Regions from separate parts of the Homo sapiens genome. Here region 1 is linked to region 2. A link means that fine-mapping ties the variant in region 2 to the expression of a gene that starts in the linked region. Tissue or cell type: tibial nerve. Region 2 holds a variant in brackets; the other region holds the start of a gene. All regions are shown on one strand. Distances are between the middles of the regions.

Region 1 (8,143 bases), 34 kb before region 2:
AGGCTGGAGTGCAGTGGCGCAATCTCTGCTTACTGCACCCTCTGCCTCCCGGGTTCCAGCGATTCTCCTGCCCCAGCCTCCCGAGTAACTGGGATTACAGGCGCGCGCCTCCACGCCTGGCTAATTTTTACATTTTTAGTAGAGACCGGGTTTCACCATGTTGGTCAGGCTGGTCTCGAACTTCTGACCTCACGATCTGCCCACCTTGGACTCCCAAAGTGCTGGTATTACAGGCATGAGCCACCGTGCCCAGCCTGGCCCCAGCTAATTTTTTAAATTTTTTGTACAGACAGGGTCTTGCCATGTTACCCAATCTTGAACTCCTGGGCTCAAGCAGTCCTCCCACCTTGGCCTCCCAAAGTACTGGGATTACAAGCATGAGCCACCTTGCCTAGCTTAATGGCATTTACATTTGTAGTGAAATACACATAACAGGCTGGGCGCAGTGGCTCATACCTGTAATCCCAGCACTTTGGGAGGCCGAGGTAGGCGGATCACCTGAGGTCAGGAGTTAGAGACCAGCCTGGACATGGCGAAACCCCGTCTCTACTAAAATACAAAAATTAGCCAGGCGTGGTGGTGGGCACCTGTAATCCCAGCTACTCGGGAGGCTGAGGCAGGAGAATCATTTGAACCCAGGAGGTGGAAGTTGCAGTGAGCAGAGATTGCACCACTGCACTCCAGCCTTGGCGACAGAGCAAGACTCTGTCTCAAAAAAAAGAAAAAAAAAAGAAAAGAAAAGAAAAAAAAGAAAAAGAAAAAAAGAAATATACATAATATAAAATTGGTCATTTTAACAATTTTTAACTATGTTGGCCAAAGTAGCCCACGCGTTGGGATTGGAGACCCGGTCTTGCCCACCGTGATCGCCCCAGTACAGTGCCTGGCATATAGTAGGTGCTCCAGGAACAATTGATCAGGATGACTTTGTCTTTGCTGGGTAAGAGGCCACATTCTAAAGGTCAGTTTTTGGCCAGGCACAGTGACTCACACCTGTCATCCCAGCACTTTGGGAGGCCGAGGCGAGTGAATCCCTTGAGCTCAGGAGTTCAAGACCAGCCTGGGCAACACGGCAAAAATCCTGTCTCTACAAAATCTACAGAAATTAGGCAGGTCTGGTGGCACATGCCTATAGTCCCAGCTGCTTGGGAGGCTGAGGTGGGAGGATCACTTGAGCCTGGGAGTTTGAGGTTGCGGTGAGCTGTGATTGTGACACTGCACTCCAGCCTGGGTGAGTGAGACCCATCTCAGAAAAAAAAAAAAAAATACATAAAACAGGGCTGGGCGTGGTGGCTCATGCCTGTAATCCTAGCACTTTGGGAGGCTGAGGTGGTGGATAGCCTAAGCTTAGGAGTTTGAGACCAGCCTGGGCAACATGGCGAAACCCCACCCCCTCTACTAGAATACAAAAAATTAGCGGGCGTGGTGGTGGGCACCTGTAGTCCCAGCTACTCAGGAGGCTGAGGCAGGAGAATGGCGGGAACCTGGGAGGTGGAGCTTGCAGTGAGCCGAGATGAGGCCACTGCACTCCAGCCTGGGCAACAGAGCAAGACTCTGTCTCAAAAAAAAAAAAAAAAAAAAGGCTAGGCCAGGCACAGTGGCTCACACCTGTAATCCCAGCACGTTGGGAGGCCGAGACAGGTGGATCACCTGAGGTCAGGAATTTGAGACCAGCAGAGCCAACATAGTGAAACCCCGTTTGCACTAAAAATACAAAAAATTAGTCAGGTGTGGTGGTGCACACCTGTAATCCCCGCTACTCGGGAGGCTGAGGCTGGAGAATCGCTTGAACCTGGGAGGCAGAGGTTGCAGTGAGCGGAGATTGCGCCGTTGCACTCCAGCCTGGGCGACAAGAGGGAAACTCCATCTCAAAAAAATAAATAAATAAAATAAAAAATAGGCTGGGCGCGGTGGCTCATGCCTGTAATCCCAGCACTTTGGGAGGCCGAAGCGGGCGGATCACGAGGTCAGGAGATCGAGACCATCCTGGCTAACATGGTGAAACCCTGTCTCTATTAAAAATACAAAAAATTAGCTGGGCATGGTGGCAGGTGCCTGTAGTCCCAGCTACTCGGGAGGCTGAGGCAGGAGAATGGCACTAACCCGGGAGGTGGAGCTTGCAGTGAGCCGAGATTGCGCCACTGCACTCCAGCGTGGGCGACAGAGCGAGACTCCTTCTCAAAAAATAAATAAATAAATAAATAAATAAATAAATAAATAAAAAATAAAGAGCAGTTTTTAGAATAAAATCTAGAGCCAACTTGAGGCGACAGTATAGACTCTTTTGTAGATTGCTCACAGCAGGTGCCCTTAAGACCCTGGGTCTGTGATGTGTTTTGTGCTGTGGGACACATGGCTCCAAAGAAGTCCCTGAAAATCAGATCATGAAAAGGTCATCAGGTTGGGGAAGTAATTGATCAGTTCTCTCAGTTTAAGAAGGTGGGGAAGAGGAGGAGCTTGCATTCTGGGATAGCCTGGGATAGCTGTGTCCCTACTCAGAGAGAGGCTGGGGGCTTGGGGGTGGACAGGCCAGACGGTGACCATCTGAACCTACTCCTCACTGGGGTTTTCCTCCCTCCCTTTCCTGTCCACTGCTGCTGGGAGGGATTTGCTGTCCTGGCATCTGGCCCAGCTGACGGGGCCAAGTGTATGAGTGGCAGCCTGCACGTCAGCCCTTGGGTGTGCAGTTTCAGATTCCAGAGAATGAGCTGGCTTGGAGCCCTGCTGAGTCAATGCCCTTCTCCTTGCCAGTGCTCTGAGCCAACCTGCCCCGAGTTCTTCCTGGCAGGCTGGTTTTCTGTGCCAGCCTCCCCTTCCTGACAGGGTATAGGGGAATGGGTAGGGAAGAGGCAGAGGAGATCGGTGCAAGTTTGAATGAACACTTAGCCCTGTGGAATGAATGTGGTCCAGCCCTTTAGCCTCACTCAGTACTTCCTTTGTCCCAACTCTATCCCTACCCCAGGCTCAGAATGTTGGGGTATCTCCACCTGCCTGAGAACTTCAAACATACAGGGGCTGGGCTTAGAGGGCAGCAGCACCTTCGTTCAGTGCATGAGTGAATGAATGAATGAGGGAGAGAAAGAGGAAGGTCTTCCATGTCTGAAACTTTTTTTTTTTTTTTTGACACACAGTCTCACTCTGTCACCCAGGCTGGAGTGCTGTGGTGCAATCTCAGCTCACTGCAACCTCCGTCTCCTGAGTTCAAGCGATTCTCCTGACACAGTCTCCCGAGTAGCTGTAAGCACGTGCCACCACACCCGGCTAATTTTTTATTTTTAGTAGAGACGAGGTTTCACCATGTTGGCCAGGCTGATCTCGAACCCCTGACCTCAGGTGATCCGCCCCCCCCCCCCTCCCACCACCCGGCCTCCCAAAGTGCTGGGATTACAGGCGTGAGCCACCGCGCCTGGCCACAGACTTTTATTTTATTTCTTTTTTAGAGACAGGATCTCACTCTGTTGCCCAGGCTGGAGTGCAGTGGCACCATTGTGGCTCACTGCAGCCTCTACCTCCTGGGCTCAAGTGAGCCTCCCACCTCAGGCTCCCAAGTAGCTGCGACCACAGTCATGGGCGACCGCCCTGGTTCCTCCCTTCCTTGTGTCTCCTCTTTCTGTTCTCTAAGTTCCTGCTTTATTATAGGCAAAGCTCAGGACATTAAAGACCCTGGCGGTAGAGGGTAGGCTATGGGGGTGAGGCCCTGATCCAAGTCCTGCCGCTAAGGCACTCATAATTTCGGGCTCAGGGGAGAAATGGAAGTCAAAGAATCTCATAAACACAGCTGCGATGACGAACCCTTTCACGGGAAGGAACATGCGAGCCCAGAAAAGTCTCTCCTGGTCTTGGGATGGAGGTCACACGAAGCCTCCGCAAGGCAAGGACTTTTGGTGAGTTCCGGGCTCCGCTGAACTCAGCTCTTTTTCTTTTCCTTCCTTTCTTTCCTTCTTCCTTTCTTTCCCTCCTTCCTTCCTTCCTCTTTCTCTCTTTCCTTTCTCTCTCTCTTTTCTCTCTCTCTCTCCTTCTTCCCTCCCTCCCTACCTCTCTCTCTTTTCTTTTTCCGTCCTTCCTTCCTTCTTTCCTTCTTTCTCTCTCTTTTCTTTCTTTTCTTTTCTTTTCTCTTCTTTCATTTTGAGACGTACTCTGGCTCTGTCGCCCAGGCTGGAGCGCAATGGCGCCATCTCGGCGCACTGCAACCTCCACCTCCCGGGTTCAAGCGATTCTACTGCCTCAGCCTCCCGAGTAGCTGGGACTACAGGCGCGCACTACCAAGCCCGGCTAATTTTTTTTTGTATTTTTAGTAGAGACTGGGTTTCACGATGTTGGCCGGGCTGGTCTGGAAGTCTTGACCTCAAGCGTGCGCCCTCTCCGCCACTGGGTAAGGCGGGGGCGGAATAGGGGGCTTGCAATTTCACACTAGAGGCGGGCACCGTGGGGGAAAGAAGAGTCACGTCTCCCACGGTTCGTAGAGGAAGGCCTGCCTGAGCCTGGAGCGGGGGCGGGAGAGCCACAGTTTGGCATCCCCAGGGCATCCCCCAGCCCGCAGACTACCAGGCCTCCAGAGGACAGGACCCCACCCCCGGCCACAGGCCCTGCCCCCAGCACTCCCCGCACCCCGCCTCCAAGACTCCTCCGCCCACTCCGCACCCAACTTATAAAAACCGTCCTCGGGCGCGGCGGGGAGAAGCCGAGCTGAGCGGATCCTCACACGACTGTGATCCGATTCTTTCCAGCGGCTTCTGCAACCAAGCGGGTCTTACCCCCGGTCCTCCGCGTCTCCAGTCCTCGCACCTGGAACCCCAACGTCCCCGAGAGTCCCCGAATCCCCGCTCCCAGGCTACCTAAGAGGATGAGCGGTGCTCCGACGGCCGGGGCAGCCCTGATGCTCTGCGCCGCCACCGCCGTGCTACTGAGCGCTCAGGGCGGACCCGTGCAGTCCAAGTCGCCGCGCTTTGCGTCCTGGGACGAGATGAATGTCCTGGCGCACGGACTCCTGCAGCTCGGCCAGGGGCTGCGCGAACACGCGGAGCGCACCCGCAGTCAGCTGAGCGCGCTGGAGCGGCGCCTGAGCGCGTGCGGGTCCGCCTGTCAGGGAACCGAGGGGTCCACCGACCTCCCGTTAGCCCCTGAGAGCCGGGTGGACCCTGAGGTCCTTCACAGCCTGCAGGTACGTGTCCCCAGGGCTGGTTCTCCGCGCCCCTAGTGGCTCTCCTGGCTTGGAAGGGTATGGACAGGAGTGGGGCGTGGGGGCGGGGTGCGCAACTGTGGCTCCCTGGGCTTCCCTGCGTCAAGGGATGGGCTCCCCCCTTAGGAAGCCGAGGAGGGAGGTTCGCTCAAGGCCAGGAATTCAAGACCACCTAAAGCAAAATAGCGAGACCCCCGTCTCTTCTACACACACACACACACACACACAAAATAAATAAAATAAAATAAAATAAATATAAAATTAAAAAACGACCGGGCGCAGTGGCTCACGGAGCCTCCACCTGCTGTCGAGACTAGCCTGGCCAACATGGAGAAACCTCGTCTCTACTAAAAATACAAAAAATTAGCCTGGCATGGTGTGCATGCCTGTAATCCCAGCTACTTGGGAGGCTGAGGCAGGAGAATCTCTTGAACCCGGGAGGCAGAGGTTGCAGTGAGCCGAGATCGCAGCACTGCACTCCAGCCTGGGCAACAGAGTGAGACTCCTCAAAAAAATAATAGCGATAAAATAAAAATAAAGCCAGGTGCGGTGACTCACGCTTGTAGTCCCAGCACTTTGGGAGGGCGAGGCCAGTGGATCACCTGAGGTCAGGAGTTCAAGACCAGCCTGACCAACACAGTGAAACCCCGTCTCTACTAAAAATACAAAAATTAGCTGGGTGTGGTGGTGGGCGCCTGTAATCCCAGCTACTGGGGAGGCTGAGGCAGGAGAACCTCTTGAACCCGGGAGGCGGAGGTTGCAGTGAGCCGGGATCATGCCATTGCACTCCAGCCTGGGCGACAGAGCTCGACTCCATCTCAAAATAATAATAATAATAAATAAAATAAAATACAAATACAAAAATTAGCCAGGTGTGGTGGCAGCTACTTGGGAGGCTGAGACACAAGAATCACTTGAGTCTGGGAGGCAGAGGTTGCAGTGAGCCAAGATTGCGCCACTGCACTCCAACCTGGGTGACAGAGCGAGACTCTGTCTGAAAAAATAAAAAATAAGCCAGGCATAGAGCTGCATGACTGTAGTCCCAGCTACACAGGAGGCTGAAAACAGGAGGATCGCCTGACCCCAGGAGTTGGAGGCTGCAGTGAGCTGTGACAGCACCACTGCACTCCAGCCTGGGCGAGAGAACGAGACCCCGTCATTGGGAAAAAAAAGAAAAAAGAAAGACTCCCTTGCCTGGCCTCAGCGGATGGAGATTTGGAAGGATGGATGAGTGGATGAATTAAGAGGTTGGGGTAGGCAAGCTGGGTCCTCACCAAGGTTTTCACCCCTCCCCAGACACAACTCAAGGCTCAGAACAGCAGGATCCAGCAACTCTTCCACAAGGTGGCCCAGCAGCAGCGGCACCTGGAGAAGCAGCACCTGCGAATTCAGCATCTGCAAAGCCAGGTAACCCTAGGATCAAGGGAGAAAAGGTCCCTCTGATAGCTGGACCCCAGGTTGAGAGGGAGGTGGTGAGAACTGGACGTGTGGCTGGGGACGTGGGGCCAGGCAGGACCTGACACCCTCCTCCCGTCCCATCCTAGTTTGGCCTCCTGGACCACAAGCACCTAGACCATGAGGTGGCCAAGCCTGCCCGAAGAAAGAGGCTGCCCGAGATGGCCCAGCCAGTTGACCCGGCTCACAATGTCAGCCGCCTGCACCGTGAGTGTCTGCCCCTCGATGCTCTCCGGTGGCCACCCCTACCCCGCCACTTGCCATTGCTGGTCCTCTCCTTGTCAGGTCCACCTTAAGGAGAAGATGTCCTGGCCTGGAGTCCCTGAGGGCTCACCAGTCTCTGGGTCAAAGCTGATGGGAGCACCTCCTTCCTCAGCCCTGACCTGGCCCAGCCAGGCCACCCAACCCTTCTCCTCTGCAAGCCAGTGGGCTGTCCCTGAAGCCCTGCTGATCACTGATTGGAACAGAGGTGGAGAAAGAGGTCTTGAGGGACTTGAGCTGCAGGGGTGCTGGAGAAGGTAGAAATGGGGTTCGGGGTGCCATCCTGAAGGTTAGAACCTTCTAGGGGAGGGTGTCATGGAGGAGGGGGTGCCAGGTAGTAGTGTTTGTAGATTTGGGCCCTCCACAATGTCTTGGGGTATGTGGGAATTAGGGCTGGGAACCCCCAGCTCCCAGACCAGAAACACTCTTGTATCTTACAAATCCAATGCTCCAGGTCCCTGACCCCTCTTCCTCCTTCCTCTCTTGTTCTCCTCCTCCCTCCCCGCCCCCGCCGGCCCCCTCCCCACCGCAGAAAGTGGGCTTTTGCTGCCACCACAAGTTGTAGGTGCTTTATTCCCAAATCTCCGTTCATCTCGAACCACAGCATGTCCACGTGTGTCCGATGCAGACTCGCGGTTCTCTAAGTTCACGGCCCCACACGGTTTCTCTGTGGTCCTCATCCTTCCCTGCATCTGTGGCTGTCCACAGCCAACTGGGTGAAAGTTTGGATCCCCCTCTCACACCCTAGGGTCAGTGGCAGGCTTCCAGCACTGTAGACCTGAGGGTTCTCTCCTCCCCAAGCTCCCGCTCCTTCCCACCTCCGTGCTGCCCGCCCCCAACCCCGCCAGGCTAGCATCTCAGCGTGGTCAGGGTCCTGTCCACCCTCCCAAAGCCACCATCCCAGGATGAGGGGCTTCTGGAGGGTGACGGGGGAAGGCACAAGTCCTGGCTGGGAAATGCGGTGGAAGGGGGCAGGGGTTCTGTGGGTTCGGGACTCCCAGACTCTTGGCTCAGGCCCGCCAAGTAGGAGAAAGTTCAGAGCTGGGAAGGCGAACAGCTGGCATTCATGGAAGCCACACTGGTGGTTTGGCCGCGTGCCCATCCTTACTGGATGGGAGGAAAGTAGGGGAAAGGGGAGATGCCTGAGGGGCCGGAAAGCGTCTTCCTGGTCACTCTGGGCCCGCCCCCACCCCCACCGTGCAGACTCATTTCGACCTTTCCCCTACTTTTCCGGCTGGGCTGGGGGCG
Region 2 (8,179 bases):
CCATAGAAGAGCTGAGACAAGAGTGGCCCCCAGTGCCGGTCCCTGGGGCCTAGGATGCTTAGGACCAGCTTCCAGGGGAGGGATGGGGGCACTGCTTGGCTCCGCCAGGCTCTGCCGGAATGGGGGCACCATTCCCCTGAAGAGTCTCTCAGTCTGCCTGAGCATTAGGGTCTGGGCCCCCAGGGCCACCACACTGTCATGGGGCAGGCCAGGGCACCTAGGACTTCTCAGAGGTGCCAGTTCTTTGTTTTTGCCAACCGGGCTTGCCTGCTCTGTCAGCCAAGTGGCGTGTCTGGGGTAGGGGGGTCGCTTCCCAGCCAGTGAAGCCACCAACTTCTGTGGAAATGCTCGGAGCTGTGTCCTCAAGGGCTCTTTATTTCCCCAAGACAACAGATTGCTTGTGTCCTAGACAATGAAGTTTTCATCCCCAGCCTGCATCCTGGACCAGCCCGCCACTGCCCCGCTGGCCACCTCTCTGCATCGGGCACCCAGTGCCAGGGACTGGTTGGGCAGCTCAGCCTCTTTGCCATTCACCTGTTTTGTCACCCAGACTGGAGTGCAGTGGCTTAGTGTCAGCTCACTGCAACCTCCGCCTCCTGGGTTCAAATGATTCTCCTGCCTCAGCCTCCTGAGTAGCTGGGATTACAGGTGCCTACCACCATGCCCACCTATTTTTTGTATTTTTAGTAGAGACGGGGTTTCGCCATGTTGACAGGCTGGTCTCGAACTCCTGAGCTCAAGTGATCCACCCGCCTTGGCCTCCCAAAGTGCTGGGATTACAGGCGTGAGCCACTGCACCTGGCCTGTCATTGATCTGTTCAGTGGCCATTTGGCCTTTGCTCTGACTTGGTCACTCTGGGTTGAGTGTCCCCAGCTGTTCAGGGAGAATGATAATATTTACATCTGTCCCTGGGGCAGCCCTGAGAATGTGGACAGCTGAGGCCTGCAAAGCACTGGGGACCCAGCCTGGCCAAAGTGCTTGAGGGCAAAACTGATGGGGCTGGGTGCCATGGCTCACGCCTGGAATCCTAGTACTTTGGAAGGCCGAGGTGGGTGAATCACTTGAAGTCAGGAGTTTGAGACAGCCTGGCCAACATGGCAAAACCCCACCTCTACTAAAAATACAAAAATTATCTGGGCGTCGTGGTGCACGCCTATAATCCCGGCTACTCGGGAGGCTGAGGCAGGAGGATCTCTTGAACTCAGGAGGCGGAGAGTACAGTGAGCTGAGATTGTGTCAGTGCACTCCAGCCTGGGCGAGGGAGATTCCATCTCAATACAAACAAACAAAAACAAACAAACTGATGGGGCTGAGGAGCCACTAAGGCTGTACAGCTGGGGCAAGGCTGGAATGGTGTGAAGGTGTCGGGAATGCCTGGGCAGGGCCCGAGTTTCCTGTCTTATTTCCTGAGGACGTGAGAACTGAGCAGACCTCCCTGGCCTTGGCCAGGCTCCCGTAGCTGCCGTGGAAAGGAGGTTAAGGTTGGTGGTGTAGATGGGGGCCCTCACAGTGAGTCCATCTTGGCCCCCAGTGGCCTGGGAGCCGATTCTCATCCCTACTGGCTTGGTTGGGAGGTGCTGGGCCACACGCCTACATTCACTCCACCTCTTTCCATCTTTCTTTTTTTTTTTTTTTTTTTTGAGATGGAGTCTCGCTGTGTCGCCCAGCTTGGAGTGCAGTGGCACGATCCCGGCTCACTGCAACCTCCGCCTCCCAGGTTCAAATGATTCTCTTGCCTCAGCCTCCACCACCACACCCGGCTAATTTTTGTATTTTTCATAGAGACGGGGTTTCACCATGTTAGTCAGGTTGGTCTCAAACTCCTGACCTCAAATGATCCGCCTGCCTCGGCCTCCCCAAGTGCTGGGATTACAGGATTACAGGCATGAGCCACTGTACCCGGCCATCTTTCTGTCTTTCTCTGAAGTCCACTTGGTAGCCCTGTGCGGGGCACCCATGGTGACGTGAGAGAATGCCAGCCCCGTTGTCTTAGGTCTTTCACGCCAGGCCAAGCAGTGGTCTTTGGGGAGAGGAGAGGTCTGAGCCGAGGGGTCTTGAAGGATGAGTAGGAGTTTGCTGGCCGCCCCAGGGGGACAGGCTGCCCTATGCGGTGGGAGCTGGGGTGCCCAGAGCCTCAATGCCCACCCCATAAGGCAGAACCACGACTCCCGAGCCACGTGCTGGGGTTTGGGGTAGGACAGTGAGTGTGGCAGTGAGTTGCGAAGGAAGAACTTGGACTGTGGATGCAGAAGACCTGGGTTCAAATCCTGCCTGGCTCACTTCCCAGGCGGTGGCTCCAGACAAGTCACTTGGGGAGCACCGTTGGGAGGTGAGGGCGAGCCCACAAACATGCATAGCTTCAGGGTCCTGCTCTGCCCCGCACCCCGTTCCCCATCCAAGCCTCAGTTTCCTCATCTGTAAAAATGGGCTACAGGAGGCTTCTGCGAAGTAACGCACATCAAGAGCTTTGTTAGCACAAGCTCATCGAATATTCTCCTTGTTCTTGTTATTCTTGGCTTCCAAGCAGCCAACCAGAGCGGGTACCAGGTGGGGTTGTAGGGGCTGCCTGATCCTGCCCTCCTCACCTGTGGCCCAAGGGTGGTGACCTGGCATCCTCTAGGTATGGGGCAGGCGGCATGCGTGGGAGGCTCTGCCAGCCTTTTTGGCATTTTGTTTGTTCACTTGACAGACATTTTCTTGGGTGTTTATTGTGTGCCAAGCACTGTGCCAGGACCTGATTCCTGCCCTTGGGGCAGACTGGCAAAAGATAAATGCCACCTGACAGGTGAGAGAGTGGCAAGAGTGACGGAGGAAGAACTGGGTCCGGGAGCAGGGTAATTCGGAGAGTAGAGTTTTAGTAGCATAGCAGGGAGGGCCTTCTTGGCCAAGTGGCATTTAAGGGGCCACACGAAGGGGATGAGGGAGGGAGCCAGGTGTGTGCCTGGAGAAGAGCGTTTCTGGCAGCAGGAGCAACCCGTGCAAAGGCCCTGAGGCAGGATCGCACCTGGCGTGTTGGGGGAACAGCATGGAGGCCTGTGTGGCTGGAGCAGAGTGAGCCGGGGGGGGGGCGGGAGGGAGGAGGGGAGGGCCCTGTGGGCAGCGGGGAGGACTGTGGCTTTTCCCCTGCGGAAGGTGGGGGCCACGGAGGGTTGTCTGCAGAGGAGGGAGGGAGGTGCCCTGGCTCGGCACTCACGGGCGCTCTCTGGTGGCTGCTGCAGGAGGACAGCGTTTTGGTTGGTGATGAGCGTGAACACAGGGACCGCACAGACAATACCTTCCAGGGTCTGAGAGTCTGGAATGGAATCGCCCAGGGAGACATGGTGGGGTGCACCCCTCGTCCTCCCTTCTCTTGGATCTGTTTCGGATGTGCTGAAGGATTGATTCTGAGATGCGAGAGAAAGGAAGGAGTCGAGAATGACTCCAGGTTTCTGGCATGAGTGCCTGGTAGGACCAAGCCAAAGTTAACCAAGATAAGGAGGGTAGGTGAGCGGTGGGTGAGCAGGCTTAGGGAGTGATCGGGAGCTTGGCTCTGCTCTTCTGGGTATGAGGGGCCTGGGGCCCCTGAGGAGACATGAAGGAGACAATGGGCACGCCAGTCTGGGCTTCTAGGGAGAGAGGTAATATAGGAGTTACCAGCCCATGGCTGGTATTTACAGCCATGAGCCTGGATGGGGTCACCTGGGGACTGGGTGTGGACAGAGATGCCTGTCCTGAGGCTCCCTGAGGTTCGAAGGTAGAGTGGGAGACTGAGTGGGAGTGACTGTGAGGAGAGGAGTCGGGGTGTGGAGCCCCTGCAGGCAGGGAAGGAGGGAGAGCTGGCTGGGTGCCTGCTGCACAGGCCCGGGGGAGTGGGGGTAGCTGAGGCTGACACTGACTGTGGGGGCGAAAGCGTGCTTGGTTTGAGTTCTAGGACTGGGGGACAGGAGGTGGAGTGAGTGAGTGTAGATGATACCTTCCAGTGCCCGAGGCAGGAAGTTGGGTCAGGAGAGAATGTTTTCTAGAGGGAAAATTCCAAACGTGTAGGTACAGCCCCACAGTGTGGCCAGGGGAAGGGCAGAGGAGGGCTGCCTGGTGGGCTCCAGGGCCTGCTCCCTCAATGTAGCAGGGGTCCCGAGTGGGGCCAGCGGACCTCTGGGTCAGCCAGGGCTCAGCCTGGCTGCCAGCACCTCCCCGAGCTCAGGAGGAACAGCCATACCCATCTCTTCCCAGACAAGGAAGCCTCATCCTCAGTGGATGCCCCCTAACTCCCTGGGACCAGGGATGACCAAGCCACTGAGCCAACCCACCCTCAGGTGCCGGGGCCCAAGGCCCACACTTGGGGGTCCACGGGGCTTCTGGCTGGGGCGTCTGGTTGGCTGTATTCAAGTGCACACACACACACTGATCTTCCCCACATGGTATGTTCTGGGTCTGGGGACAGCTCACCCAGACCCCACCCCAGAGCCTGGGGCGGCTGGGCCCATAGGGACAGTGCTTCCATGGCTGGGACAGGAAACAGTTTACAAGGCAGCTCACCCCTGGCCTGACCAGCAGGCACCTGCTCTGCTCAGGGAAAGTGTTCCTGATGCTCCTTGGCCAGCATGAGACAGGCCTGCTGCACACCCCGTGTCGACTGGGCTCAGGCCCCCGTCCCTGGGTGCTGTTGCCCACAAACCCTCATCTCTGTTCTGTCCACGCTGCGCTGACTCCTTTCTGGGCCAGGGTTTGCATCTTGGCAAGCTGCTCTGCTGTGCACCCCCCTCCTGGGACAATGCATACCTGTGTTGGAGCCTTGTGAGGAGCTGTGCACACACGTGGACTGCCACACGGACTGCCCCTTGAATGAGGACTTAGCCTTGGCTGGAGCTCCCTGCAGCTCAGCAGGGGACCTGACCCTGGGGACAGGGGTGGTGGGAGGTGGCTGCAGGCTCTTTCCTCCGGGCTGCGTCCTCAGGGCACATTCCTGTTTCCCACTCAGCCATCTGTGCCGAAGCTGGATGTGGGTTTGCTGCACCAGGAGAGGTGGGGGTTGAGGTGGGAGTAGCTCCTCATGTCCTGTCACTTACATACCTGGAGCAGTGACCCTTCCCATGCCCTGACCAGAAACCACAACAAC[C/T]GTGACAGCTGCCTACTCGTGTCCCTTCCTGTGCGATGCCTGCTCTTTTCGTGGGGGGAGACAGAATCTCTGTTGCCTAGGCTGGAGTGCAGTGATTCGATCTCGGCTCACTGCAGCCTCCACCTCCTGGGCTCAAGCGATTCTCCTGCCTCAGCCTCCTGAGTAGCTGGGGCTACAGTAGCCACCACGCCCAGCTAATTATTATTATTATTATTTTTTTTTTTGAGATGGAGTCTCGCTCTGTCACCCAGGCTGGAGTACGGTGGCGTGATCTCGGCTCACTGCAAGCTCCGCCTCCCGGATTCACGCCATTCTCCTGCCTCAGCCTCCCAAGTAGCTGGGGCTACAGGCGCCCGCTACCACACCCAGCTAATTTTATTGTATTTTTAGTGGAGATGGGGTTTCACCACGTTAGCCAGGATGGTCTCGATCTCCTGACCTCGTGATCCACCCGCCTCGGCCTCCCAAAGTGCTGGGATTACAGGTGTGAGCCACCGCGCCCGGGTACTTTTTGTATTTTTTATAGAGACGGGATTTCACCATGTTGGCCAGGCTGGTCTCGAACTCCCGACCTCAAGTGATCCGCCTGGCTCATCCTCTCAAAGCATTGAGATTACAGGCGGGAGCCACCGTGCCTGGCCATGCCTGCTCTTACTTCCTCCTCCTGTGACTGCCTTCCTGTTCACACATTTGGAAAAAGTAGTCCAGAGGTGAAGTGACTTGCCCAAGGTCACCCCGCTCAGGAGCCTTCTCAAGCCGTGTCTGGCTGCCCAGCCACCAGGCTGCAGGTGGAGGCTCAGGGTTGATGGATCTCAAGCTGCTCTGCCTGCCTGGCTGCCTGGGTCCCCTTGCCCCAGCTGGGACAGCCCTGCTCTGAGGACCAGACACAGGCAGGTGTTGTGCTATCCGCAGTGGCTGTTTCTGGAAGGCAGGAGCCTGCCTTCACTTCTGCACCACTTAGCACAGTGCCTGCAGGCCCTGGGCTCCAGGCATCTCTCGACTCCTCCACACCGTTGGCAGCCGCGTTGGTGCAGCACCCAGGGAACCGGCGGGAAGGTTGTGGGGGCAGTCGTGGGTGGAGTGTGGGGATTCACAGAACCTCGCCTTCCCGCCCAGTGGTGCTCATCGGGGACTCAGGCGTGGGCAAGAGCAACCTGCTGTCGCGCTTCACCCGCAACGAGTTCAACCTGGAGAGCAAGAGCACCATCGGCGTGGAGTTCGCCACCCGCAGCATCCAGGTGGACGGCAAGACCATCAAGGCGCAGATCTGGGACACCGCTGGCCAGGAGCGCTACCGCGCCATCACCTCCGCGTGCGTGTCGGCAGCCTGGGCAGGGACGCTGAGATTCGGGGGCGTGGGCTTGCAGCGCGTGGGCTTGGAAGGATGTGTAGGAGTTGGGCAGGAGAAGGGGAGAGTGTGCTCCCAAGACCAGGGAGTGAGGCTGGAAGAACGCTTTAGCCATGCGCCGTGGGACCCTCAGGCTGACCAGCGCCCAGCCTTCGCCACACCAGGGTATCTCTGGGTACCAAGTGCAGTGAGGACCTAGCTCAGGCCACTCCGCCTTGCCGCTGCCCCTGCCCAGCCAGCATCCCAGCCTTCCTCCTCCCTCAGCTTCCCTCCTCACTGGTGCCCACACCTGGTCCCACACGCCTCCTGTCCTCCCACCTGGGCCTGGCCTCCATTCCCTGCAAAGGCTTCCCAGCCATCAGGACCCACTCAGCTGCCTTTTTCTGGACCCCTCCCAAGCCCCCCAGCCATTCCCACCACCGTCTTGAGATCCTCTGGGCTCCCTCCCATCTCCTTCATCCCTCAGGTACATCTGTCTCTCTGTCACCTCCTCTTGTTTTTTTTTTTTTGAGATGGAGTTTCACTCTTGTCGCCCAGGCTGGAGTGCGATGGCACGATCTCGGCTCACTGCAACCTCCGCCTCCTGGGTTCAAGCGATTCTCCTGCCTCAGCCTCCCAAGTAGCTGGGATTATAGGCACATGCCGCCATACCAGGCTAATTTTGTATTTTTAGTAGAGATGGGGTTTCTCCACATTGGTCAGGCTGGTCTCAAACTCCCGCCCTCAGGTGATCCACCCTCTCGGCTTCCCAAAGTGCTGAGATTACAGGTGGCGTGAGCCACCGTGCCTGGCTGTCGCCTCCTCTTTTTTGGAGACAGACAGGGTCTTGCTCTGTCGCCCAGGCTGGAGTGCAGTGCCACAATTGCAGCTCACTGCCCCCTTGACCTCCCAGGCTCAAGCGATTCTCCTGCCTCAGCCTCCTGAGTAGCTGGGGCTACAGGCCTGTGCCACCATGCCTGGCTAATTTAATTAATTAATTTATTTATTTTTTAGTTTTAGTTTTTGAGACAGAGTCTCACTCTGTCGCCCAGGCTGGAGTGCAGTGGCGCAGTCTCAGCTCACTGCAAGCTCTGCCTCCCAGGTTCACGCCATTCTCCTGCCTCAGCCTCCTGAGCAGCTGGGACTACAGGCGCCCACCACCACGCCTGGCTAATTTTTTGTATTTTTAGTAGAGATGGGGTTTCACCGCATTAGCCAGGATGGTCTCGATCTCCTGACCTCATGATCTGCCCGCCTCGGCCTCCCAAAGTGCTGGGATTACAGGCGTGAGCGACCCTGCCTGGCCTATTTATTTATTTTTTTGAGATAGAGTCTCACTCTGTCATCCAGACTGAAGTGCAGTGTCACAATCTCGGCTCACTGCAACCTCCGCCCCCCGCCCCCCAGGGTTCAAGCAATTCTCCTGCCTTAGCCTCCCGAGTAGCTGGGATTACAGGCGCCTGCCACCACGCCTGGCTAATTTTTGTATTTTTAGTAGAGATGGGGTTTCACCATCTTGGCCAGGCTGATCTTGAATTCCTGACCTCGTGATCCACCTGCCTCGGCTTCCCAAAGTGCTGGGATTACAGGCATGAGCCACGACCCCCGGCCAATTTTTGTGTTTTTCTAGTAGAGATGGGGTATCGCCATGTTGCCCAGGCTGGTCTGAAACTCCCAGCCTCAAGTGATCCACCCGCCTCAGCCTCCCAAAGTGCTGGGATTACAGGCATGAGCCACCATGCCCAGCCCCTTCTTC

The links. PIP is the estimated chance that this variant, and not a neighbour inherited with it, causes the effect.
Region 1: ANGPTL4 starts here. The variant in region 2 is fine-mapped to the expression of ANGPTL4 in tibial nerve (GTEx, PIP 0.93).

Annotation. Positions count from the first base shown.
Region 1 is chr19:8,359,479-8,367,621 of GRCh38, forward strand. It overlaps ANGPTL4 (angiopoietin like 4), which reads left to right and starts at 4,677. Exons shown (of 7, transcript NM_139314.3): 1 at 4,677-5,161; 2 at 6,476-6,586; 3 at 6,724-6,841. The coding sequence starts at 4,844. RefSeq lists an enhancer at 4,294-4,343.
Region 2 is chr19:8,393,651-8,401,829 of GRCh38, forward strand. RAB11B (RAB11B, member RAS oncogene family) reads left to right here. Exons shown (of 5, transcript NM_004218.4): 2 at 6,213-6,408. Among named protein-coding and RNA genes, the nearest start is that of RAB11B-AS1, 7.0 kb to the left of the region's middle. RefSeq lists a silencer at 3,049-3,098. The variant C/T (reference allele first, on the strand shown) is at 5,097.